Homo sapiens: one gene and its partners. The protein of the gene in region 3 interacts with the protein of the main gene of each other region in a biochemical or structural test. Each region holds a gene or a part of one and is shown on either strand. Other genes may lie near its edges. The genes, in order: EZH1, SLC26A3, TJP2, UQCRC2, USH1C, ACOT6 and ADGRA2.

What was found.
Region 1: the proteins of TJP2 (region 3) and EZH1 interact in a test that uses a peptide from one of them, tested with the Homo sapiens proteins (one large-scale study listed by IntAct).
Region 2: the proteins of TJP2 (region 3) and SLC26A3 interact in a test that uses a peptide from one of them, tested with the Homo sapiens proteins (one large-scale study listed by IntAct).
Region 4: the proteins of TJP2 (region 3) and UQCRC2 interact in a test that uses a peptide from one of them, tested with the Homo sapiens proteins (one large-scale study listed by IntAct).
Region 5: the proteins of TJP2 (region 3) and USH1C interact in a test that uses a peptide from one of them, tested with the Homo sapiens proteins (one large-scale study listed by IntAct).
Region 6: the proteins of TJP2 (region 3) and ACOT6 interact in a test that uses a peptide from one of them, tested with the Homo sapiens proteins (one large-scale study listed by IntAct).
Region 7: the proteins of TJP2 (region 3) and ADGRA2 interact in a test that uses a peptide from one of them, tested with the Homo sapiens proteins (one large-scale study listed by IntAct).

The regions. Positions count from the first base shown.
Region 1 is NC_000017.11:42,742,241-42,746,293, reverse strand, and holds the start of EZH1 (histone-lysine N-methyltransferase EZH1), read left to right. Parts: upstream 1-1,253; 5' UTR 1,254-1,276; coding exon of another isoform or gene 1,277-1,283; intron 1,284-4,053.
Region 2 is NC_000007.14:107,772,224-107,775,723, reverse strand, and holds part of SLC26A3 (chloride anion exchanger), read left to right. Parts: intron 1-851; coding exon 852-947; intron 948-1,570; coding exon 1,571-1,804; intron 1,805-3,500. UniProt on the Homo sapiens protein: Mediates chloride-bicarbonate exchange with a chloride bicarbonate stoichiometry of 2:1 in the intestinal epithelia. Plays a role in the chloride and bicarbonate homeostasis during sperm epididymal maturation and capacitation.
Region 3 is NC_000009.12:69,236,777-69,240,276, forward strand, and holds part of TJP2 (tight junction protein 2), read left to right. Parts: intron 1-172; coding exon 173-360; intron 361-1,101; coding exon 1,102-1,197; intron 1,198-1,933; coding exon 1,934-2,013; intron 2,014-3,160; coding exon 3,161-3,371; intron 3,372-3,500. UniProt on the Homo sapiens protein: Plays a role in tight junctions and adherens junctions. Acts as a positive regulator of RANKL-induced osteoclast differentiation, potentially via mediating downstream transcriptional activity.
Region 4 is NC_000016.10:21,973,861-21,977,360, reverse strand, and holds part of UQCRC2 (cytochrome b-c1 complex subunit 2, mitochondrial precursor), read right to left. Parts: intron 3,466-3,500; coding exon 3,385-3,465; intron 1,195-3,384; coding exon 1,118-1,194; intron 1-1,117. UniProt on the Homo sapiens protein: Component of the ubiquinol-cytochrome c oxidoreductase, a multisubunit transmembrane complex that is part of the mitochondrial electron transport chain which drives oxidative phosphorylation.
Region 5 is NC_000011.10:17,493,400-17,496,408, reverse strand, and holds the end of USH1C (harmonin), read left to right. Parts: intron 1-731; coding exon 732-840; coding exon of another isoform or gene 841-1,056; exon of another isoform or gene 1,057-1,996; intron 1,997-2,032; coding exon 2,033-2,077; 3' UTR 2,078-2,509; downstream 2,510-3,009. UniProt on the Homo sapiens protein: Anchoring/scaffolding protein that is a part of the functional network formed by USH1C, USH1G, CDH23 and MYO7A that mediates mechanotransduction in cochlear hair cells. Required for normal development and maintenance of cochlear hair cell bundles.
Region 6 is NC_000014.9:73,615,517-73,617,952, reverse strand, and holds part of ACOT6 (acyl-coenzyme A thioesterase 6), read right to left. Parts: intron 1,110-2,436; exon of another isoform or gene 960-1,109; coding exon 761-959; intron 1-760. UniProt on the Homo sapiens protein: Catalyzes the hydrolysis of acyl-CoAs into free fatty acids and coenzyme A (CoASH), regulating their respective intracellular levels.
Region 7 is NC_000008.11:37,841,883-37,845,396, reverse strand, and holds the end of ADGRA2 (adhesion G protein-coupled receptor A2 precursor), read right to left. Parts: coding exon 3,042-3,514; 3' UTR 908-3,041; downstream 1-907. Other genes in the region: BRF2 (transcription factor IIIB 50 kDa subunit), read left to right, coding at 184-907.

The DNA of each region.
Region 1 (4,053 bases), on a different chromosome or scaffold from region 3:
AGAATCGCTTGAACCCAGGAGGCAGAGATTGCAGTGAGCCGAGATTGCACCATTGCACTCCAGCCTAGGCAACAAGAGTGAAACTGTCTCAAAACAAACAAACAAACAACACGCACAAAAAATCAGCTTATGCGTGTTCGTCAAGAATACCACAGAAGTGATTTTGTGCGCTTCTCATTGCATCATGTTCAGAGGGACCTGGTAAGAATACCTCTCAGCTGGGGGCAATGGCTCATGCCTGTAATCCCAACACTTTGGGAAATCAAGGTGGGAGGATGGCTTGAACCCTGGAGTTCAAGACCAGCCTAGGCAACACAGCAAGACCCTGTCTCCTTAAAAAGAAGAGGGAGGCCGGGCGTGGTGGCTCATGCCGGTAATCTCAGCACTTTGGGAGGCCGAGGTAGGCAGATCACTTGAGGTCAGGAGTTTGACAGCAGCCTGGCCAATACGGTGAAACCCCATCTCTACTAAAAATACAAAAATTAGCCGGGCGTGGTGGCACGAACCTGTATTCCTGGCTACTTGGGAGGCTGAGGCGGGAGAATTGCTTGAGCCCGGGAGGGAGAGGTTGCAGTGAGCCGAGATCGCGCCACGGCACTCCAGCCTGTGTAAGTAACAAAGCGAGACTCCGTCCAGCCTCGCCCCCCGGCAAAAAAAGAAGAAGAAAACAATACCTCTTATCACTAGTGATGCTAACTTTGATCACTTAGTTAAGGTGGTGTCTGACAGATTCTTATCTGTAAAGTTGCTATTTTTTTCCCTTTGTAACTAGCAGGTGTCTTGTGGGGATTTATTTCGATACAAGGCTATAATTTTGATTCTAAGTGACTAGAAAACTATGAACAGAAATAGGGAGATCAGACATAAATAAAGGGCTTAGAACCCATAGACCGGTGTCTGGAGAACTGGTAGGGGTGAAGCATCGGTATGAAGGTGATCTGGGTTGGCTTCAAACGCTGAAGTGAGATGTGGCTTGTCACCAGCGCGTGGGGATGGCAAATCCGCTGAATAGGGTCTTCAGGAAGATATTAGTGGCTCTGCGAAGGTTTCCCCAGAGCCCTTCCCCTCCCCTGCCAGCGCCGCTTTGGAAGCCGTCTGGGAGGCTGCACCCGCCAGGACTCCTGAGTGCGGGGTTTTGGCGGCAAATGACAGTAGTGCGTCCGCGCGGCACGGGTAAGTCAATGCGCACGCGCCGACAGGAGGCGCGGGGCGGGGCACGGCGCAGGGGTGGGGCCGCGGCGCGCATGCGTCCTAGCAGCGGGACCCGCGGCTCGGGATGGAGGGTGAGTGAGTAAACAAGCCTGGGCCGGGCGGTGGGGCCGGGCCTCCTCCCCTCGCCGCCCTGGGCCTGAGGGAGGGAGAGGCGGAGGGATCAGGAAATTGGAAGGAATCCGAGGGACACACTGCCTGCCTGGCCGGGGGTAGCAGGCGCCCCTCCTCATTCCGAGGGTGGGGGAATGGGGGCGACGGGGCGAGAGAGACCCAGGCGAGGACAGCGTCTGGGGCTGCGAGGGCTGTGTGCCCGGGAGGAGGAGCGGCGGGGGCGGGCTCGGGGACGGGGAATCCCGTTGGATGGCGGTGTGGGCCGGTGGGCGGGAGCCCCAGCGCCCAAAGGGCGCGGGAGGGCGGTGGCACCTGCGGGGGCCTTTAGCGAGGTGGACTCTGGGGACCTGGAGCTGTGCTTGGGGAGGGCTAGAGACCGGGGCTGATCTTGCGATGGCTTTCGGGGATGTTGAGGAGGGGTAGCAGTAAAAACAAGGCCGGGACTAGGGTGAGGTGAGTAAGGCTCCCAAGGCACAAAGTGTAAAGGAGCACTGACTCAGGGTCGCGCAAGTGCAGTGAGCGCCTCCTCACGTGCGTCCTGGGTGCCTCGGTCGCCTCACCCCAGGCCTGGCCCTGAGCAAGAATCTCCTTCACTCCAGACTTTTGGTCTCACGCCAATGATCGCTCACCCCCACCATTCAACCGAGGATCAAATGATATAAATAAAAGTGCCTTGAAGCACAGACAAGGTGTTGTATTTGGGACATGCCTGTTAGGAAATGTGGGACAAACTTTTATTTCAATAAAAAGTGACTACTGAGGAATTGTTTCTTGAGCAGGGAAGGGAAGGGATACCTGAAGGATGTTAGTGCCCCCCGTGGAATGTGAAGGAATATGGAGGGTGAAATACAGGGTTGTATGTGATGTAGCCCAGGCCGATAGGAACCTGACGCTTGGCAGGGGAGGATGAAAGCAAAGGAGCTCAGGTACACTAACAATTAGGTGGGTGCAAGGATGGCAATGAAAACGCGAGTCTCCTCCACGTTTGCTGCCATACTGCCGCTGAATAAAAAAATTCCCACACCCCATGTTTTTTAAATTTAGGAAACTGATATTGAAGGAGGTTTCCAGCCTGAGAAGGTGCTAACCCTATTAGAGGTTTCTGTGAAAGCTTGTCTATTTTAAGTCTTGGAATCCCCAGATATGCCACTGATAAAAGAGATTACTTACATAGGAGAGAGTGTGTGTTAGGAGATAAGTACTTTAGACTGGGCTCGGTGGCTCATATCTGAAATCCCAGCATTCGGGAGGCCCAGGCAGGAGAATAGCTTGAGCCCAGGAGTTTGGGACCAGCTCAGGCAACAATAGCGAGACCTCATCTCTACAAAAAAAAAATAGCCAGATGTGGTGGCCTTCTCCTATAGTCCCAGCTGCTTGGGAGGCTGAAGCAGGAGTATTGCTTGAGACTGGGAGGTCAAGGTTGCAATGAGCTCTGATCCTGCCACTGCACTCCAGTCTGGGTGACAGCACCTGAGACCCTGTCTCAAGAAAAAAAAAAAAAGCCTGGCACGGTGGCTCATGCCTGTAATCCCAACACTTTGGGAGGCTGAGGTGGACCGTTCACTCGAGCCCAGGAGTTTGAGACCAGCCTGGGCAACATGGGACAACTCCATCTCTACTAAAAATACAAAAATTAATCAGGTGTGGTGGCACACGCCTGTAGTCCCAGCTACTCGGGAGGGCTGAGGCATTAGAATCGCTTGAACCGGGAGGTGGAGGTTGCAGTGAGCCGAGATTGCACCACTGCACATCAACCTGGGCAACAGAGTGAGATTCTGTCAAAAAAAAAAAAAAAAAAAGGAGGCCTGGCACAGTGGCTCAGGCCTGTAATCCCAGCACTTTGGGAGGCCAAGGCAGGCGGATCACTTGAGGTCAAGAGTCCGAGAGCTGCCTGGGCAACATGGCGAAACTCCTTCTCTACAAAAATACAAGAATTAGCTGGGCGTGGTGGTGGGTGCCTGTAATCCCAGCTATTCAGGGGGTTGAGGCACGAGAATCGCTTGAACCTGGGAGGTGGAAGTTGCAGTGAGCCGACATGCACCACTGCATTGCAGCATGGGTGACAGAGCAAGACTCCATCTCAAAAAAGAAAAAAAAAAGGGAGAGAGAAGTACTTAAAAACGCACATACATAATAGGAGAAAGGACTATCTATAAAACTGTAATAATGCTATCATTGTCAAGGTTTATGCTTATTGTTGTGTGTCACAAACATAATGAATCAACTCCAAAGGCAGGGATATATGTTTTATTCATTGATGTACCCCAAACACCTAAAATGGTAACACATAGTAGATACTACTATTAAGTATAATAGTAGGTGCTCAACATATATTTGTGGAATAAATAGTGGGGAAATTTCTGGCACTGGGAGTCAGGTGATCCGGATGCTAGTATTGTCAGTAACTGGCAGAGTACTTGTATGCTAATCGTGGAACTTGATGCTAAGGCCCAGCTTAAAATTCCTTAAAGTGTAAATGACTTCTTCATTATGATGGTTACATTAGTGCCCTTTGAAACAGCACTAGAGGCTGGGCTGATGGCTTACACCTATAAGCCCAGCACTTTGGGAGGCTGAGGCTGTTGGATCACCTGAGGTCGGGGAGTTCAAAACCAGCCTGGCCAATATGGTGAAACCCCATCTCTACTAAAAATACAAAAAATTAGCCAGACGTGGTGGCGGACACCTATAATTCTAGCTCTTGGGAGACAGAGGTGGGAGAATCGCTTG
Region 2 (3,500 bases), on a different chromosome or scaffold from region 3:
TTGAGACAAGGTCTCGCTTTGTCACCCAGGCTGGCATGATCACAGCTCACTGCAACCTCAAACTCCTGGGTTTGAGCAATCCCCCTACCTCAGCCCCCCAAGTAGATGAGACTCCAGGCATGTGCCACTACACCCCGCTAAGTGCTAAGTTTTAAATCTTTTGTAGAGACGAGGGCTTGCTTTGTTGCCCAGGCTGGCCTTGAACTCGTGGCCTCACGCAATCCTCCCACCTCGGCCTCCCAAAGTGCTAGGATTAGAGGCTTCAGCCACCACGCCTGGCCAAGGATTTTTTATTACATAATTTGATCCTCCTCTCTTACTTATCTGTAACTAAATATTACAGCAATAAGAATTCATTAGTGTTGAAAAAAACAAAGATTAGCCTCAAATATAATACTAAAATTATAAAATAAAATTGTACAATAATAAATAACATACCATTATAAATTTTAATAAGATAAAAATTACATACAAGCAGAATACTTATGTAGGTGCAACTCGTACTCAATAAATAGAAAATAAGTAAAATAAAATTCCCTAAGAGTTGTGTAGGTTCCAAACACAAACAGATTCAAATAGAGTTTATGTCCATTCATGGATAATTTATGGATGAATCCTGGACTGTGTTATACAAAAGCTTTTGACTGTTGATAACTGCATACAGGTGGAGCAGACCATGGGTCTGACCCAATGTTCTGGCTGATATTGTTTAAACCACTTTTAAATTTTGTCACAAATATTTTTATTATCTGTCCCAATCCCTCAAATCACTCCAGTTAAAGTTGTTAGAACTATGCTATATAAATAACAGAATATTCAGTACTCTTGTAACACAGCAATGGGTTTCTCAGGTTGGCTTTAGTCCACTTCGAATTCTACGCAAGCGCAACAAAGCTTTGAGGAAAATCCGAAAACTGCAGAAGCAAGGCTTGCTACAAGTGACACCAGTAAGTTCCTTGACCACATTTCTATGCATTATAGCTAAAAGCTTAGTAAAGGATGATTCAAGGTGTAGTTCCATTCCTTTAAATGAAATGCCAGATAAACAAGGGATTTCATGTGTCAATGAGTGTTATATTTTAAAATGACATCCTTCTGAGGGTCTCCCTAAAATTTTTATTCTCCTGGGAAAAGTACCAAACACAATTGTCCACAATCTTGTTGTTGTTTGAGACAGTGTCTTGCTCTGTGGCCTAGGCTGGAGCGCAGTGGTGCGATCACAGCTCATTGCAGCCTTGACCTCCCAGACTCAAGCGACCCTCCCACCTCAGCCTCCCAAGTAGCTGAAACTACAAGCACATGTGCCACCATGCCTGGCTAACTTTTTTATTTTTTGCAGAGATGGAGTCTTACCATGTTGCCCTGGCTGGTCTCAAACTCCTGGGCTCAAGTGATCCTCCCACCTCAGTTTCCTAAAGTGCTGGGATGACAGGCATGAGCCACCACACCTAGTCCAATCCCATCGTTTGGCTCAACTCAGAATCAGTGCTTCTGAAACTCACTGGCTATCTCTGACATACACAATGTTTTTCTTGGTCACAGTTTTCATACTTGTTATCCTCTCCTGCAGAAAGGATTTATATGTACTGTTGACACCATAAAAGATTCTGACGAAGAGCTGGACAACAATCAGATAGAAGTACTGGACCAGCCAATCAATACCACAGACCTGCCTTTCCACATTGACTGGAATGATGATCTTCCTCTCAACATTGAGGTCCCCAAAATCAGCCTCCACAGCCTCATTCTTGACTTTTCAGCAGTGTCCTTTCTTGATGTTTCTTCAGTGAGGGGCCTTAAATCGGTAATTTCTTTGTTCTTAATGGAAACAACCAATCAATGACTAAAGGTTAAAAAAAAAATTGTATTTGTGGGCTGGGCACAGTGGCTCATGCCTGTAATCCCAGCACTTTGGGAGGCCGAGGTGGGTGGATCACCTGAGGTCAGGACTTCGAGACCAGCCTGGCCAACATGGCGAAGCCCCGTCTCTACTAAAAATACAAAAATCAGCTGGGTGTGGTGGCGTGCACCTGTAATCCCAGCTACTCGGGAGGCTGAGGCAGGAGAATAGCTTGAACCTGGGAGGTGGCAATTGCAGTGAGCCGAAATTGCACCACTGCACTCCAGCAATACAGTGAGACTCTGTCTCAAAAACAGCAACAAAAAAAACTGTATTTGTGGAAGGATGCTCCTTTAGGTAACATGCATTTAATTAGAAGCAAATGATAATCTTAGAGTATTCCATGGAGGGAAAGGTGGTGTTCAGTGGACTCTTGAAAGGGCATTTTTCCATGAGACTGGGTACTATATTGAAGGGAATCAAATCTACAGTTCTAACGTATGCTGAATCTGCTGGTGGACAACTATGCTCACATTCCTTTCAAATTTCAATTCTGTGGTGTTCTCAAATCTTTGTGGGCATTGTGTCTAAATTATTCTGAAATCAGAGAAGATCTGGAAAGGTCCTGGGAAAAAATGTAAGAGTGGATCCTTTTGTTTTATCCTCATCCATTATAAGCTGATGAAATTTCACTTGGCTAAAACCCAAATAGATATATGAAAGAATAAATGTCACATGTGATTTCAAAACACGACTGAAACAATCAGATTGCAGTGTGTTTTCTTTCCACAGATTAATCATATTTCTAAAATAAATTAGTTTCTAACAGAAATGCAGAAACATATAAAAAGAAAATTTAAGAAATTCTACATCTTTCTCTCTTTTTCTTGGGTTTTCACAAAAAATCTGCCCAAGTGAGAGCTGACCTAAGATAAGACCTATTCAGCATGGGTGAACTGGATACAAAATTAGAAAATGGAAGAATTTTTTTTAAATGTTAACATCATGTAACTCTCAAGTCTACTTGCGTTTTCTTTTCTTTTTTGGTTTTGGTTTTTGTTTATTTTAGCTTTTGATTACTTTAGCTTTTGTTTCTGCATTTTCACTCACACACACACACACATTTATTTTTTGGTTCTAGCAGTATAACACAAAGGACAGGGGCTCTAATTCTTAGTTAAGTGCCTAGAAGAGGTTCTGAAAGTGTTTACTGATGATGGCAATGACATTAATGATCATCTAACCTGATCAAACAATATAAGCTACTTTTCTTACTTTACATGATCTTACTCATATCACTACTGGTATTTGTTCTTAGCCTAGAGACCAGAAAAATGTATAAACATTCATTGGTGCTAGATACATCCATTCATTGTGGACAAAAATAATTAGCAACTCATGGTCCATAGGTTCTTTTTTAAAACTTTTATGTAGCAAGAAAGCTCTAGTTGAGATCATCCCAAAGAAGACACTATTTTAAAATTAAATCAGAGTTGTTCTTATGAGTTTGAGACAGAACATTTTCCCATAATACTTCCTTCAAGAATGATCATTTTTAACTTCTTACTGAGGAGAAGGGTTCTTTTGTTTGGGTTTATTTCTGTCACAGAGCCTTGTTTTTAACTTTAGTATCTTCTGACACTATTATCTCTTTTCAAAA
Region 3 (3,500 bases):
TGCTCCCATTTGGAAGTGAAGGTCCCCACATTTCCCACCCTCTGAAACTTCTTCATTGTCAAGCGGAATCTTCTCTGAGCTCAGAAGTAAAATTGACTGGATTTGATTAATGAAATGCATGTTAGCTGCGTTTTCTGGCTTTAGAGATTTACTTCCCGTGGTTTCTTCTCAGAGCTGAACAAATGGCCAGTGTTCAAAATGCCCAGAGAGACAACGCTGGGGACCGGGCAGATTTCTGGAGAATGCGTGGCCAGAGGTCTGGGGTGAAGAAGAACCTGAGGAAAAGTCGGGAAGACCTCACAGCTGTTGTGTCTGTCAGCACCAAGTTCCCAGCTTATGAGAGGGTTTTGCTGCGAGAAGGTGAGGAAGTCACATGGGGCCTGGAAATGAACTGACTGGGCTCTGAGCCTGTTCACCTTTATTTTCAGACTGTATGGTCAAGTTCTAACTTATGTATGTCAGTTATGCCAAAGGCAGTTTATAGAGTTGAAATCAAATTCTAACAAGGAGCATGATTTATAAAAAGCTGTTTCAGTTCCTAAATTGAGGCTTATTTCTGCAACTTAAAAAATGTTTTAATACCACTGTTCAAGAGTTTCGGTATATTGGCTGGGCACTGTACCTTATGCCTATAATCGTAGCACTTTGGGAGGCCAAGGTGGGAGGATCACTTGAGCTCAGAAGTTCAAGACTAGCCTGGGCAATATAGTAAGACCTCATCTCTGCAAAAAATAAAAAAAGTTTCCATATATTATCAATGGGAAAGTTTGTGTTTAAAAATGGTGAGGAGCTAGGCAGTGTAGTCCCAGCTACTCAGGAGGCTTGAGCCTAGGAGTTTGAGTTTAGTCTGGGCAACATAGTGAGATCTTGTCTCTTAAAAAAAAATCTAGGTTAGCATGTGGTTGAATGAAAAGAAAAAAATTGTTTTAAATGGTGAGGATAGTGAAGGCATATTCTTCAGAACAGAGCCAAGCTGAATTGGGGAGAAACCACAGTTTCTTTCGTTTAGTTATGTTATCAAAAGCCCATACAATACTTTTACTGCTTATCATAACAGCTAGGCAAGTGTGTATGCTTTAATGGCCTTTCTTGTCATTTCAGCTGGTTTCAAGAGACCTGTGGTCTTATTCGGCCCCATAGCTGATATAGCAATGGAAAAATTGGCTAATGAGTTACCTGACTGGTTTCAAACTGCTAGTAAGTCTGTCAGTGTTTTTTTTTCCCCCAAATTTTTATTTTGAAAAATTTCTAACAGAGGAGTTGGAAGAATCATGAACACCCACGTACCCTTCACCTGGAATCACCAGTTGCTGACATTTTGTCACGCATTTTCTCTCACCCACTGCCTGCACCATAGACACACATACACACACACATACACATACTCTTTGAAAAATTTCTGCAGAATCATTTATAACACTTTATCCCTGAATACTTGTGTGAATCTCCTAAGAACAAGGACTTTCTCCCACATAACTGCAATACCATTATCACAGCCAAGAAAGGTAACATTGATGTGGTGTGATTTTGTATATAGTCCATTTTCCACGTTTTCTTAATTGTCCTAGTTATGTGCTTCATAGCTTTTTTTTAAATTCAGAATACAACCAAGGACCATTCATGACATTTGATTTTTATGTCTTTTTGTGATTTTTATGTCTTTCCAGTCCCCTCTTTTTTCTAAATAACTTTGTTACACTGATATTTTGAAGAATCCAAGCTAGTTGTCTCCTAGAATGCTTCCTGTTGGACTGGCCTAACCGTTTCTTCATGATTAGATTTCCACTAAGCAGGTTATGTGGGTCCTTCCCACTGAATCTTGTTAGGAGACACTTAATGTCAGGTGTGCCATCATTGCTTGATGCTAGGTGGGAGTATTTGGTTGTCACTGTTTTCTAAACAATTATTTAGCTTCCTGTTTTTGCTTTTGCAGAAACGGAACCAAAAGATGCAGGATCTGAGAAATCCACTGGAGTGGTCCGGTTAAATACCGTGAGGCAAATTATTGAACAGGTGAGAAAATTCATCCACAGACCGTGTTTTCAGAAAGAATTAGATTATGGTTTGCTGCAGTCACTTTTAGGATAGTATCTGTACTTTTAATCATTAAATGTTAATAATAAAAAATTGGCCGGGCACAGTGGCTTACACCTGTAATCCCAACACTTTGAGAGGCTGAGGCGGGTGGATCACCTGAGGTCAGGAGTTCGAGACCAGCCTGGCCAACATGGTGAAACCCTGTCTCTACTAAAAATATAAAAAATTAGCCGGGCACAGTGGCAGGTACCTGTAGTCCCAGCCACTCAGGAGGCTGAGGCAGGAGAATCGCTTGAACTCAGGAGGCGGAGTTTGCAGTGAGCGGAGATTGCACCATTGCACTCCAGCCTGGGCGACGAGTGAAACTCCATCTCAAAAAAATATATATATAATGTAAATGCAAACCGTTTCACTGTGTGGAAACCAGTCACTGTTGGCAGTGAGCGGAGATTGCACCATTGCACTCCAGCCTGGGCGACAAGAGTGAAACTCCATCTCAAAAAAATATATATATAATGTAAATGCAAACCATTTCACTGTGTGGAAACCAGTCACTGTTACTGTTCTCTGGCAGTAACATACTGTTTTTTTTTCCAGAGTTCCCAGCATTATACCAAATAATGTGTTAATTCATTTTATCAGAAGTTCTAACACATTGGTAATATTGAAGTGGGCATTAGGTAGAAGGAAATGTGTTCTGCTTCTTGATTTAAATTTACAAGATAGGTGGCTCATGCCTGTAATCCCAGCACTTTGGGAGGCAGAGGCGGGCGGATCACCTGAAGTCAGGAGTTTGGGACCAGCCTGGCCAACATGGTGAAACCCTGTCTCTACTAAAAATACAAAAATTAGCTGGCCATGGTGGTGGCGGGCACCTGTAATCCCAGCTACTCAGGAGGCTGAGACAGGATAATTGCTTGAACCCGGGAGGCGGAGGTCGCAGTGAGCCAAGTTTGTGCCACTGCACTCCAGCCTGGGCAACAGAGCAAGAATCTATCCCAAATAAGTAAACAAACAAACAAACAAGATATATCTCATACAGCCTTTACTTATTAAAACAAAGTATTTGATGCTATATTACTTTATATATCCATTTCTCTAACTTTTCCCCTTTTGTAAACAGGATAAGCATGCACTACTGGATGTGACTCCGAAAGCTGTGGACCTGTTGAATTACACCCAGTGGTTCCCAATTGTGATTTTTTTCAACCCAGACTCCAGACAAGGTGTCAAAACCATGAGACAAAGGTTAAATCCAACGTCCAACAAAAGTTCTCGAAAGTTATTTGATCAAGCCAACAAGCTTAAAAAAACGTGTGCACACCTTTTTACAGGTAAGTGAAATGTAAATGTAGTCCCTTTGCTAAAAAATGAGAAATAAAGAATTGAAGAGTAGAAGAAATAATTAATTAATCTGAATGGAGAATTTGAAATTGTGTTCATGACTCCTTGAAAAATAGTTA
Region 4 (3,500 bases), on a different chromosome or scaffold from region 3:
TTTTTAAGAGACAGGGTCTTGCTCTGTTGCCCAGGCTAGTGTGCAATGGCGTGATCTTAGTTCACTGCAGCCTCAAACTCGTGGGCTCAAGCAATCCCCCCTCTTCAGCCTCCTGAGTAGCTGAGGCTACAGGCACACACTACCACACCTGGCTAGTTTTAAATATCTTTTTGTAAAGACAGTGTCTTGCCACATTACCCAGGCTGGTTGAACTCCTGGCCTCAAGTGATCCTCCTGCCCCAGCCTCCCAAAGTCCTGGGATTACAGGTATGAGCAACTGCGCCTAGTCAAATGTATTATTTAAACATACACACATACACACACTCTAACATGGAGTCTTTCGTTATGTTTATAACTCTTAACTTAGTTGGGAATCTACACCAAGAAAGTAATACGAAACACAAAAATATTTTAAGCCCAAAGATATCTTTATAACTGCAGAAAATGCACAAGTGTATTTTGACACACCAATGAATATTGTTTAAATTTTTAGTAATTTGAATCAATGGAAACAGAATCATTGCTAGGGAAATCAGAGATCATTTTTGTCTTTTATTTGTAATTTTCAAACTTCTATAATAAGGATGCTATTTAAATAAGATAAAAAAGTATACAGATGGTCCCTAACTTAACTTATGATGGTTTGACTTATGTTTGTTTGGCTGGATGACTGGGTTATTAGGGTATTAAATGCATTTTCGATATGCGCATTTCTCAGGACGTAACCCCAGTGTAAGTCAAGCAGCATCTATATATACAATATTAACAATTATGTTTAAAAATGCATGATCAATAAACTAAGAAAAATGTTAACAATTATTCTCTAATTTTGGTGGAGACGAGGTCTTGCTATGTTGCCCAAGCTGGTCTCAAACTCCTGGTCTCAAATGAACCACCTGCCTTGGCCTCCCAAAGTGCTGGGATTAGTGAGCCACTGTGCCTGGCCAAAATGTTAACAATTATATCTTTAGGTGGTAGGATATGGGTATGTTTCCCTTTTTACGCTTTTCTGTACTTCTCAGTCCTTATGAGCATAGATTGTAATATTGTTATAATCTGAAAAGAATACAACTTTCAAATAACAAAAACATAAAACACAGTTAATACTGAGACTTACTTGGCAGCTTGGACATCTGTGTTGGAAAGGTTTCCTTGAGCTATTGTTTTTACTTGATTATAGGCAGCCTTGATAACCTAGGACAGATAAGAAAAGTTGGTCATCTGTGGTCAGTACCAGAGTCTCCTGCAGCACTGACACACTTCTTTACTGAGGCAAAAACACAGATGGAAGGTTAGTTCCAGACAAACAGCACAGTGTCCATGCGGAATGCTGTCATCACTATGGGTTCCTTATTCTTCCTATGTTCATAAAGCAGCTGTTTATACACAATCCTCCTGCCCCAGCCTCCCAAGAAGCTGGGACTACAGGTGCATGCTACCAGGCCTGGCTAATTTTTTAGCTTTTTTTGTAGAGATGTGTGGGCTCAAGTGATCCTCCCACCTTAACCTCCCAAAGTGTTGGGATTATAGGTGTGAGCCACCACACCCGGCCAAACACATGGATTTCTAATCACCCATAAAGAATAAGCACCTTTAAAACTTCCCCAGACTCTTGCAGTGTCATGCCATTAATACTGCTATCTCTTACTATTCACTAAGAAGAGAGTAGTAATCCATACACAGCCAATTTGTAAGGCTTGTCCATACTTTGTAAGCCAGGGTCAAGAAGGAATCTGAATCCTTGTATGGTATTTAAAAAAAGAAAGAAAGAATAAAGTTCCGGGGATGTGGGTACTTGGTAAATATTTGTTGAATAAATAAATAAATCTGACCATGATTTTCTCCATCCCAGTGCTGGCTGGGTCTGCTACTTATTTTTCCCTCTGATCACCTAAATTCTAGGACCTCTGTTTCCCCTTCATTTTAGCTGCCCATTTTCAGAGCCACACCCCAGACCTGATCATAGCCTAAATTTGCATACCTCTGAAGCCCTCAATTCTAAGACCCCGACCTCAGTCTTTAATCTCACTATCCTTATTCTTCCACTTTATCAAGATCTCTAGTTCCTTGACTTGTCCAGTCTTTCAATTTATCAGGCCCCCTCTGGCTTCACTTCTCTATTGAGCCTAGATCCCTGAATCATCCTTTTAATCACTCTTGCCAATGCTCCCAACTCCCTTGCTATCTCCTCATACTTCTCACCTGCCCACTTTGCAGGATTCCAACCTGGGATTAACCCTAATACCTACCTCCTCCATTTCTCTATTAGGCTTCTGAATGCAACTGAAGAAAAATTACATGACAGTGCTGACTGACTGTACTATGAATTTGTGGTCGCTGATTTCAAGGATACATCTACACTACAGCGAATACCCACTTTTTGTGTACCTCACTATTTGTCTGTCCCAAACTTCACTACTTTCTTTAAACTTTCCTCTCACGTCTGTCAAAACATGACTTAGCCTCCTGTCTCACTGAGGAGGTACTTCCCCATCTTCCCAATATCTTCCAATATTAGCCTGTCTGTAAGGCTAAAAGGTCCACTTGTGTGCTGGATCCCAAGTATTCCTTTCTCAGACTTGAGCCATTTATAATTTTCTATCTCCGATATCTGCTCCGATCTTTTTGCTCAGTATGTCTCTTTCAACCTAATCTCTCAGTGTAAACTCTCCTAAAACAACTTGCTCCTTGAATGTCTAAGCTCCACTAGCCCACACCAACCTCTCATTTCTTACTTGTCATTCATTCCTTAATCACTACACATTTTACCCAATTTCCACTACTCTAGTCAAAACTGTTAAGATCACCCATGATGTCCTAGCTTGCTGAAACTACCAGACTTCTCAGTGGTAATGAATGTTATTTCACTGTGGGTCAAAATGGTGTTAAACATACTCTCTTTCCTATCCTTCAAATATATCAGCTTCTCTTTTTCTTTCTGTTTACCTGGGCCATTTTTCTTAGCCACTTGCTCCTTAAATGGTGTTGTTTCCCAGAAATTGAGCTTTAGTTTTCTTTTCCTACAATCATTCACACATATCCCTGATTTCAACACAATCTCTACACTGAAGACTTGCAAATAAACCTCCTGGTCTTCCCCTCTCCTGGGTTCTCAATTTAGATGTCTCAGAGCCAACTCAATGCAACTTGTCCAACCAGAACCAAAACATGAAGGAGGCAATTCTCTCCTCTTTCCTGGAAGCATTAGTATACATGTGTAAATTTCCCTATAGCAGATAATGCTTCAATGACATCATACTATACAGAGCTCTGATAAGTCATTGCACTGCATTCAAACATTCCATATTTTAACCGAAAACATGTTTATGGCGGGGGGGAGAAATAACTTGTTCATGAAAGAAGTTTGGTGAGTTTGCAACTTACATCTCCAGCAGCTGTGGCCTGGGAGATAGTATAAATCCCAAAGAGTCCAGAATCTGAGTAACTGGCATTAAATGCAGAAACCTGAAAGATAATGAGACTTTACTGTATGATATTCT
Region 5 (3,009 bases), on a different chromosome or scaffold from region 3:
GTCTGTGTCCATCCTTCACTCTCTGGAAGGTCTTCCTGATGTCTAACTGCATTCACTCATACTGTGCCTCTAGGCAGCCGGGACCACAGGCTTTTGTCCCCACGCTGTGGGATCTCCAGGGAGCTTTGGCCTAGACTGTCTCTCTCTGTGATTCCCTGTGTGTCTGTCTCTTGTGTCCTGTGGGTCTCTCTGTCTTCTCTCCTCCTCCCTCTCTGTCTTTCTTTCACCCTTTCCTTCCTTCCTGTCAACATCTTATCTGCCCCCCTCCTTCCCCTTCATCCCGGTCCCCTTTCTCTCTCACTGTCTCCTATTCTTTCTTCCTGTTTCTCTTCATCCCTGTCTCTGAGTCCCTGTTCCTCTGTCCTTGTCATTCTGCATCCATTCTTACCTCTTTGTCTGCCTTTCTCTGTTTCTCTGCCTCTGTGTGGTGTCTCACCTCCATCCTCACCTCATCCCATCACCTCCCCAGCCCTCACCCACCCACCACTCACCCACTCACTGACCATGCCCTGCCTCCCTGTCGTGGCTGGGCCTGCTTGCTCCCCGTGCCCAGCAGAATCTGAGCTCTACACATGTCTTGGAGAAACCAGGGTCTCGCAGCTCCTAATTCTGGAACCCAGGGGCTAGGCAGAACCCGAGGCAGGAGCCCAGTGAAAGGAGAAGCCCCATGGAGCTCTGCCTGGGAGTAACCAAGCCTGTTTTGTGTTTCTTGCTCTGCTCTGTATATATAGAGCTTCTCTTCCCTCCTCCGTAGCTGAAAGCCCCCAACCGGTCCGAAAGCTCCTTGAAGACCGTGCTGCCGTGCACAGACACGGGTTCCTCCTGCAGCTGGAGCCCACGGTGAATAGGCAGGCGGGCCACAGGGCCCTGTGTGTCCCTGCTGCTTGCAGTGGCCATCTGCTGCCCACGCTGTCAGCAGGTTCTTTGGACTGGCGTCTGGAGGGTACACAAGGCGCCATCCCTGAAGTGCTGCCTGGGGCCTGCTGTTGGCCACAGTGGAATTCCTCAGACTCAAAGCCCTCCCCTCAGGGAAGTGGTGCAAAGCCCAGTCTGTAGTACTTGCTTGGGACCCAGGTGTCCTGACTCATCACGGCCCTGGGACCTGCTTTGGGTCCCAAGCAGCACCCAAATGAGCAGGATGAAGCCCTGGGCAACATTCTCTGAGGGACACAGACAATGCCTCGAACCAGGCATGTGGGGCTGAAGGAGCCCACAGGAAGCCTGGCTGGAATTGCCCCCAAGAGATGTCCTCAACAGAATGTGAAAATTCCCCTTCCTGTGAATGCCAACCTCCTGGGAGCTCTTGCTCCACCATGGCCCCCACACTTGGCCAGAACCAGGGCTATTAAGAGGTTTTGAAGGCTGGTCCAAAGAACCAGGGTTGGTGGATTAGAGTTGCTCATGTCCTGTTGTGCCCTGTCATGGCCTGAGCCGTGCTTAGACCAAACGGTCTTCTCTGCCTTCTCCCTTCCTTGGCTCTGGGCTCTATCTGTGGGATATACCGTGGAACCCAGCTGTAGGATGTGTTTCTCACCCTGTGATAGGGATGTGCCCGTGGACAGAGCTGGCAGGTGGCTGTGAAACTGGTGTTTGGTGTGGCCTGAAGCCACAGATGGCAGCATCTGGGGCAGACCCAAGCCTGGACTTGACTTTTCTGTTACAACTTTCCCAAAACATTAGGGCCTCATGCTCCCAAGACACTTGGCCGGGTAGACCATGGCTTCTGGGGTGGCCTGCATGGCCCTATGTTTTCTGTTACTTGCCTTTTGCAAAGGACTCTTGCCCCTGTTCCTCCCAGTCTCCTCCTTCCCCCATCCCAGGTGTCCCTCCCGCTTTCTCCCTGGCCTCCTGTGTGCTGTGGCTGTGGCTGGTGTGTAGCCACTTGGGGCCTGCACCCAGAGGGGTCTCCAAAGGGTGGCAGGGCCTTGTGCTGCCAGAGTGGGTACTCCCCCTTGTGGGGCCTTGCTCTGGCTGGGCTGAGTGTGCACCCACAAAGCCTGTATCCACCTGGGCTGTTTCCACTTCCCTGCAGGACCTTCTTCTGAAGTCCAAAAGGGGAAACCAAATTCACCGTTAGGAAACAGTGAGCTCCGGCCCCACCTCGTGAACACAAAGCCTCGGATCAGCCTTGAGAGAGGCCACACTACACACACCAGATGGCATCCTTGGGACCTGAATCTATCACCCAGGAATCTCAAACTCCCTTTGGCCCTGAACCAGGGCCAGATAAGGAACAGCTCGGGCCACTCTTCTGAAGGCCAACGTGGAGGAAAGGGAGCAGCCAGCCATTTGGGAGAAGATCTCAAGGATCCAGACTCTCATTCCTTTCCTCTGGCCCAGTGAATTTGGTCTCTCCCAGCTCTGGGGGACTCCTTCCTTGAACCCTAATAAGACCCCACTGGAGTCTCTCTCTCTCCATCCCTCTCCTCTGCCCTCTGCTCTAATTGCTGCCAGGATTGTCACTCCAAACCTTACTCTGAGCTCATTAATAAAATAGATTTATTTTCCAGCTTATAGGAGTGAGTGTGGATTTGGGCAGCAGATTCAAGGCTGCAAATCAAAAAACCATAAGGTTTGTGGCCCCTATTCAAGGGTGATAGACAGATCCCAGTGCTGTGATCTGGGTCTGACATGAAGGGTGTGATCAAATGGCCAGGGCTGGCTTGGAGCAGAGGTTGAGAAAGCAGGAGATGGGCTGGGCTGGGCTTCAATGTCTTCTCAGCAGAGATGGTAGGAGATGAAGTCTGTGTGGCAGGGATTTTGCTCAATTCCAGAAAGCAGAGCTGAAGGCAGGAGCCCCGAAGGGTCACCTCATGATATGGGGTGCCCAGCTTCTTTCAAGAACGACACAGCCACCAATGCTTCTCCTGAGGTCACCACGACAGCATGTGAGGGAGGAAGATGGCAGGGTCCACTCCCTCCGTGGAAGCACATCCCACAGAAGCTCATGGGAAATGCAAGGGCTTGAGGCAGGAAGGCATAACTCCGGGGGCCCAGCAGGGGGAATGT
Region 6 (2,436 bases), on a different chromosome or scaffold from region 3:
GGCTGGTCTCAAACTCCTGACCTCAGGTGATCTGCCCGCCTTGGCCTCCCAAAGTACTGGGATTACAGACGTGAGCCACCGCACCTGGCCAAAATGTTTTAATTAATTAATTATTTCTGTTATCAGATAAGGACTTTCTTTACAAAACCATAATACCATTATCATACCCAACAAAATTAATGATTACTTCATATAATCAAATACACCATTCTCATTCAAATGTCTCCAGTTGTCTCAAAAAATATCTCTTTATAGTCATTTTCTCTATATACATTTACATTAATCTTATTAAGGAGGAAAATTGAACTCCAGAGAGAGTAACTGCCTTATTCAGAATCATAAGGCCACTCTGTGGTAGATGCAGAGCTGGAACTTTTTTTAGTCCTGTGCTCTTTGAATTTTGGTCCACAATTACAAAGACAACTAAATAGTCAAGTCTTCAGGGATTAGAGAGAGATGGGAGAAAATGGAAATAATAATCCTAGTACAAAAACTTTTTTTGAGACAGGGGTCTCACTAAATGTTGCCCAGGCTGGTCTTGAACTCCTGGGGTCAAGCAATCCCCCGGCCTCAGCCTCCCAGGTAGCTGGGACTACAGGTGCACATCACCATGCCCAGCTTCCACCCTAGTAACCTTTGAAGGAGACTTGGTATCTCCTGGCATGTTTCTAGTTCTCAGTGTTCTGGCAGGGCTTTTGGATTCAGCCCTGCATCAGCTCTATCCCCTCTCTTCTGCACTCAGGTGATCACCAGAACGCACCTTTGGATGCTGCAGCATAAAGTCCACGGCTTCTTCAAAGTACTCCAGATGTACATCATTCAGATCTTCGGGGAGGTCTTCAAATCTGAAATAAGCCAGGGCAAGCACAGCAAAACCATGTCCGGCCAGGAGGCTGGCCCTGTATTCACAAAGGCCCCTGCTGCTCCCAAACAGATCAATGATCCCAGGAAAGGGCCCCCTGCCTGGAGAACATCACAAATCACAGGGAGCTTTAGTTTCTCAAAAGACAGTAAGCAAACAAGTTTTTGAAGCCAAGGAGATTGGGGGTAGAGAGATTGGCAGAGAAAGAACAAAATGTCTTATTTTCTCAAACAATAATGATAATATAGAGGGATAAAAAACTACATATTGGGTACAATGTATACTACTCAGGCGACAGGTGCACTAAAATCTCAGCGTTCATCACTGTACAGTTCATCCGTGTAACCCCAAACCACCTGTACACCAAAAGGTATTGAAATTAAAAAAAAAATTTTTTTTTGACAGTCTCACTCTGTCGCCCAGGCTGAAGTGCAGTGGTGCAATCTCAGCTCACTGCAACCTCTGCCCCCTGGGTTCAAGCAATTCTCCTGCCTCAGCCCCCCAAGTATCTGGAATTACAGACATGCAACAGACACCCGGCTAATTTTTTTTGTATTTTTAGTAGAGACTGGGTTTTGCCATGTTGGCCAGGCTGGTCTTGAACTCCTGACCTCAGGTGATCTGCCCACCTTGGCCTCCCAAAGTGCTGCGATTACAGGTGTGAGCCACCGCAACCGGCCTAAAACTTTTTAATGATATAAATTATTGTCACACCACTGCACTCCAGCCTGGGTGACAGAGTGAGACTCTATCTCAAAAATAATAATAATAATAATATTATTTTCACAAACAAAAATAAACCAAGTTAGAAATAACATAATGAGGCCAGGTGTGGTGGTTCATGCCTATAATCCCAGTGCTTTGGGAGGTCAAGATAAGAGGACCACTTGAGGCCAGGAATTCACGACCAGCCTGGGCAACATAACAAGACCCATCTCTACAAAAAAGTTTAAAAAACTAGCTGGGCATGATGGCACTTGCCTATAGTCTTAGCTACTCAGGAGGAAGAGGCGGGAGGATCATCTGAGCCCAAGAGTTCCAGTTTGTGGTGACCTGTGATCACACCACTGCACTGTAGCCTGTAGATCACTGTAACCTTGAATCCTTGGGCTCAAGTGACCCTCCAGCCTCAAGAAGCCACCCTCCCAAGTAGCTAGGCCCCTATGCTTGGCTAATTTTTAACTTTTTATAGAAATAGGGTCTCACTATGCTGCCTGGGCTAGTCTCAAACTCCTGGCCTCAAGCAATCCTCCCACTGCAATGCTCCCACCTCGGCCTCTTCAAGTGCTGGGATTTTAAGTGCGAGCCACTGCACTCAGCCTGTTTGTTTGTTTGTTTGTTTGTTTGTTTGTTTGTTGAGACAAGGTTTCACTCTTGTTGCCCAGGCTGCAGTGCAATGGTGCGATCTCGGCTCACTGCAACCTCCGTCTCCCCCCGGGTTCAAGCGATTCTCCTGCCTCAGCCTCCCGAGTAGTTGGTATTACAGGCATGTGCCACCACACCTGGCTAATTTTGTATTTTTAGTAGAGATGGGGTTTCACCATGTTGGTGAGGCTGGTCTCAAACTCCTGACC
Region 7 (3,514 bases), on a different chromosome or scaffold from region 3:
CCTTCCCCTAACAAGCGGAAGACGCCCTGTTTTCTCTCACTACCTTTATTAACTTGCTGCCCAGTGAGCTTGAGTATTCCTGAGGGCAGAATAGCTTCCCCATCTTGAGTGGGCTGTCTTTCCTCACTGTGGGAGAGCAGCCCCTATATCATTAAGATCCAACCCTCATTTTGGTTATTTCAGCTTCAAACTGTTCCAAGCTTCACCTTCTGTGCCAGCCAAATACGTGGAAGACAAAGAGAAGATGCTGTCTCGAACAATGCAGTTGGTGGAGCTGGCAAATGAGACGTGGCTGGTGACCGGGAGGCATCCCTTGCCCGTCATCACTGCTGCGACTTTCCTGGCTTGGCAGTCGCTGCAGCCTGCAGATCGGCTTTCATGTTCCCTTGCCCGATTTTGTAAATTGGCAAATGTGGACCTGCCCTACCCGGCGTCCTCCCGCCTGCAGGAGCTGCTGGCTGTGCTGCTGCGGATGGCTGAGCAGCTGGCCTGGTTACGAGTTCTGAGACTTGACAAACGGTCTGTGGTGAAGCACATCGGTGACCTTCTCCAGCACCGCCAGTCACTGGTCCGCTCTGCCTTTCGGGATGGGACAGCAGAAGTGGAGACCCGAGAGAAGGAGCCACCGGGGTGGGGACAGGGGCAAGGAGAAGGGGAGGTGGGAAATAATTCCTTAGGTTTACCCCAGGGGAAGCGGCCGGCCAGTCCTGCCCTTCTCTTGCCACCCTGCATGTTGAAGTCCCCGAAGCGGATCTGCCCTGTACCCCCTGTCTCCACTGTCACTGGAGATGAGAACATTTCTGATAGTGAAATAGAACAGTATTTGCGTACCCCTCAGGAAGTTAGGGACTTTCAGAGAGCCCAGGCTGCTAGACAGGCTGCCACGAGTGTCCCTAACCCTCCCTGATGGATATCCACTGGGAGCACTTCATCCTGTTCTGACAGCTTGATAACATTCCTGTTATAACCAAGGATGGAAGTGTACACCAGTCCGTAGGTATTGCTTTTCTTGTTTGAAGGAACCAAGAGGGGCTCTGCCATTAGTTGGACCCTGGGTCCTGGAGTAAAGTCAGGAGTGCAGGGATGACTATAGGTAGGAGAGATTCCCATCCCTTGGTGTGGGAGAGCAAGTTGCCTATGTCCATGTTCTGTGAGATGGCTTTCCTCATAGATGGATGGGAAAATGTCAGGCTCTTTGCTGCTGGTTTGAATTGGACACACTGCTGCGGCTCCTCCTGCAGGCCTGAGGGGGCTTCCCTCTGCTTGTGGAGTGGTTGGCATTCCCAGCAGTATCAACCCTCAGAGGAGCGGGAACTGGGGAATTCTGGCCCTACGTGCATTCACAGGCAATGATGGGTTTGTGTGTATGGTGTCATGAGATCCTCTACCTCATAACAAAAGGACAGTGGGTAGACTAAGGCAGTAGCTCAAAGGGCTTTGCAAAATTTTAATATATTAAAACAAGAGGCATCTGCTAGAAAACATTCTATTGTATAAAACCCGAGTTCTTAAAAACATGTTTTCTTTGGCACTTTCATTCCCTCCCTCCCCTTTCCCCAGCATATTGCAAAAAGCTCTCCAGTGCTAAGGCATTGGCAGGGTGTGTAAACAGCAGCCAGCATATGTGGAAGAATAATACAAAGCTTTTTTTTTTCTTCTAATATGTCTGTGCAGCAAGCATAAATAACAGGACCCATTCCAAGGAGTGTGTGTGGGTTTTCCCCCTCCCCTGTGTCCTCTGTCACCTTGGTGATGAGGCCAGAGTGATGTGAAGACTGGGAGGGAACCCTAGGTCAGACCTTGGTTTCCTGTTGTTCTTCCCAAGACCCAGGGTTCCCTCGGTTTCCATTTGGTCCTGTAGTGAAATGCTGGTGGTTGGTTTTAGGTTGGGGAAAAGACGGGTGCTGGTGTTTAAAAGGAGTAAAGGCATAGGCCCCTCATGACCTGCAGGGACCCCAGCCACTGCCTCTGGGCTTGGCTTGAGCTCCTGGGAGTCGGGAAGCTGGTTTGACATTTTGTAGGTTTCTCTCTACTGTGGAGCTGGAGATCAAATGATTGGGATGGTTCTTCCTCTGGCCTTACGGAGGCAAGGAAGTGCTCTTCCTTAGTCCCGTGGTGTTGTAAGGCTGAGACTAGGGAGATGGGTCTTGTAACTGAAAAGTAACTGCTTCTCCAAACACCACCTGCAGCTTTCTGGGGCACCATTGTTTACAGGACTAGCTTTAGGGCATGACTAGATTCTGCCCCAGTTCCACCTGCCCTCTCCCTCTACTCCCCTCAGTTCACCCACAGGCACCTGGCAGTCAGCTGTTGAGGTGCAGGGCCTCAGCTTTGTCCCGGTGTGCCACCTCTGAACCCTGCTGTCTGGTTTAAGTACCACTCCTGTGGGAATGGTGGCATTGTTCCTAGTTGTGCCCGGTTCCCACTCCCCTCCCCCAGGACTGGTTGATGTCTAGAGCTGCCTTTCACGTGGCCCCACCCTCCCCTCTTGCATAGTGGATCTGAAAAGCAGCACCTTGTGACTTAACATCACCTGCTTCATGTGCTGGGCTAGCTCTCGTGCCAGCCAAACTCGGGAGGAAAAGGGACCTAGGATCTAGGCAGGGGCTGGGCTGAAATCAGTAGAGGGCAGGGAGGAAAGAACACAGTTCCCACGCTCTCATCTCTGCTTTGCTGGTGAGGCTGATGGCCCCCAGTGAGGCCGCATGGACAGTAGGCGGGGTGGGAGTACTTGGGGAGGGTGCACCTGGGATGTGCTGTGCCCTTTCACACAGACGGAGGCCTTCCCCGTTCCTGGGAGGGCACCGACAGTCAGACTGCCCCGGGCTGGACGGAAATGTATTATGCGTGTTTCTGGGATTGTCTGTCGCTACCCCAGAGGGATGCCCTCTAGGCAAGTGGGGAACATCCGCCTGTGGGCTTCCTCCAGCCATCGGCTCCTCTGCCTCCAACCTGCTGACTACGGAGACACCTTGGAGGGCCCCGAGGAGCGGGGGAACGAGCCGCGTGGCCAGCCCGTCTACCGCGTCGCCCGCCCCACCTTAGACGGTAGTTTCGCTCTTCCAGAGTCCGGTCTTCATGCAGCCGCCGCTGGCTACCTCCGCGCCCATCAGGGTGACGTCGTCGTACTTGCCCCCCTTGGGGGCGCCGTTTAGGCTGGCGGCGTTGAGCGGGTACGAGCGGCGATGGCTCTCCTTCTCCAGCGCGCCGCCGCCCTTGAGACTGTCGCGGCTGGCGCTGCGGCGCTGGCCTGCCCGGCCCGCCTCAGAAAGCGGCGCGGCGCTGGTGTCGCTGCCCTCGGACGGCGTGAGCATGGGCTCGCCTTCCAGCTGCAGGCCGGCGCCCGGGCTGTTGCGGCTGCTGCCCAGGTAGCTGTCGGTGGGGCTGTTGTGCAGACTGCCGCTCTCGCTGGACAGCAGCTCCAGCGCCCCCGCCGCGCCCCCGCGCAGGGCCTTGAGCCGGTTCTTGCCGCAGGCCTCCCCCGCGCGGTGTCCCTTGGCCCGGCTCTTGTGCG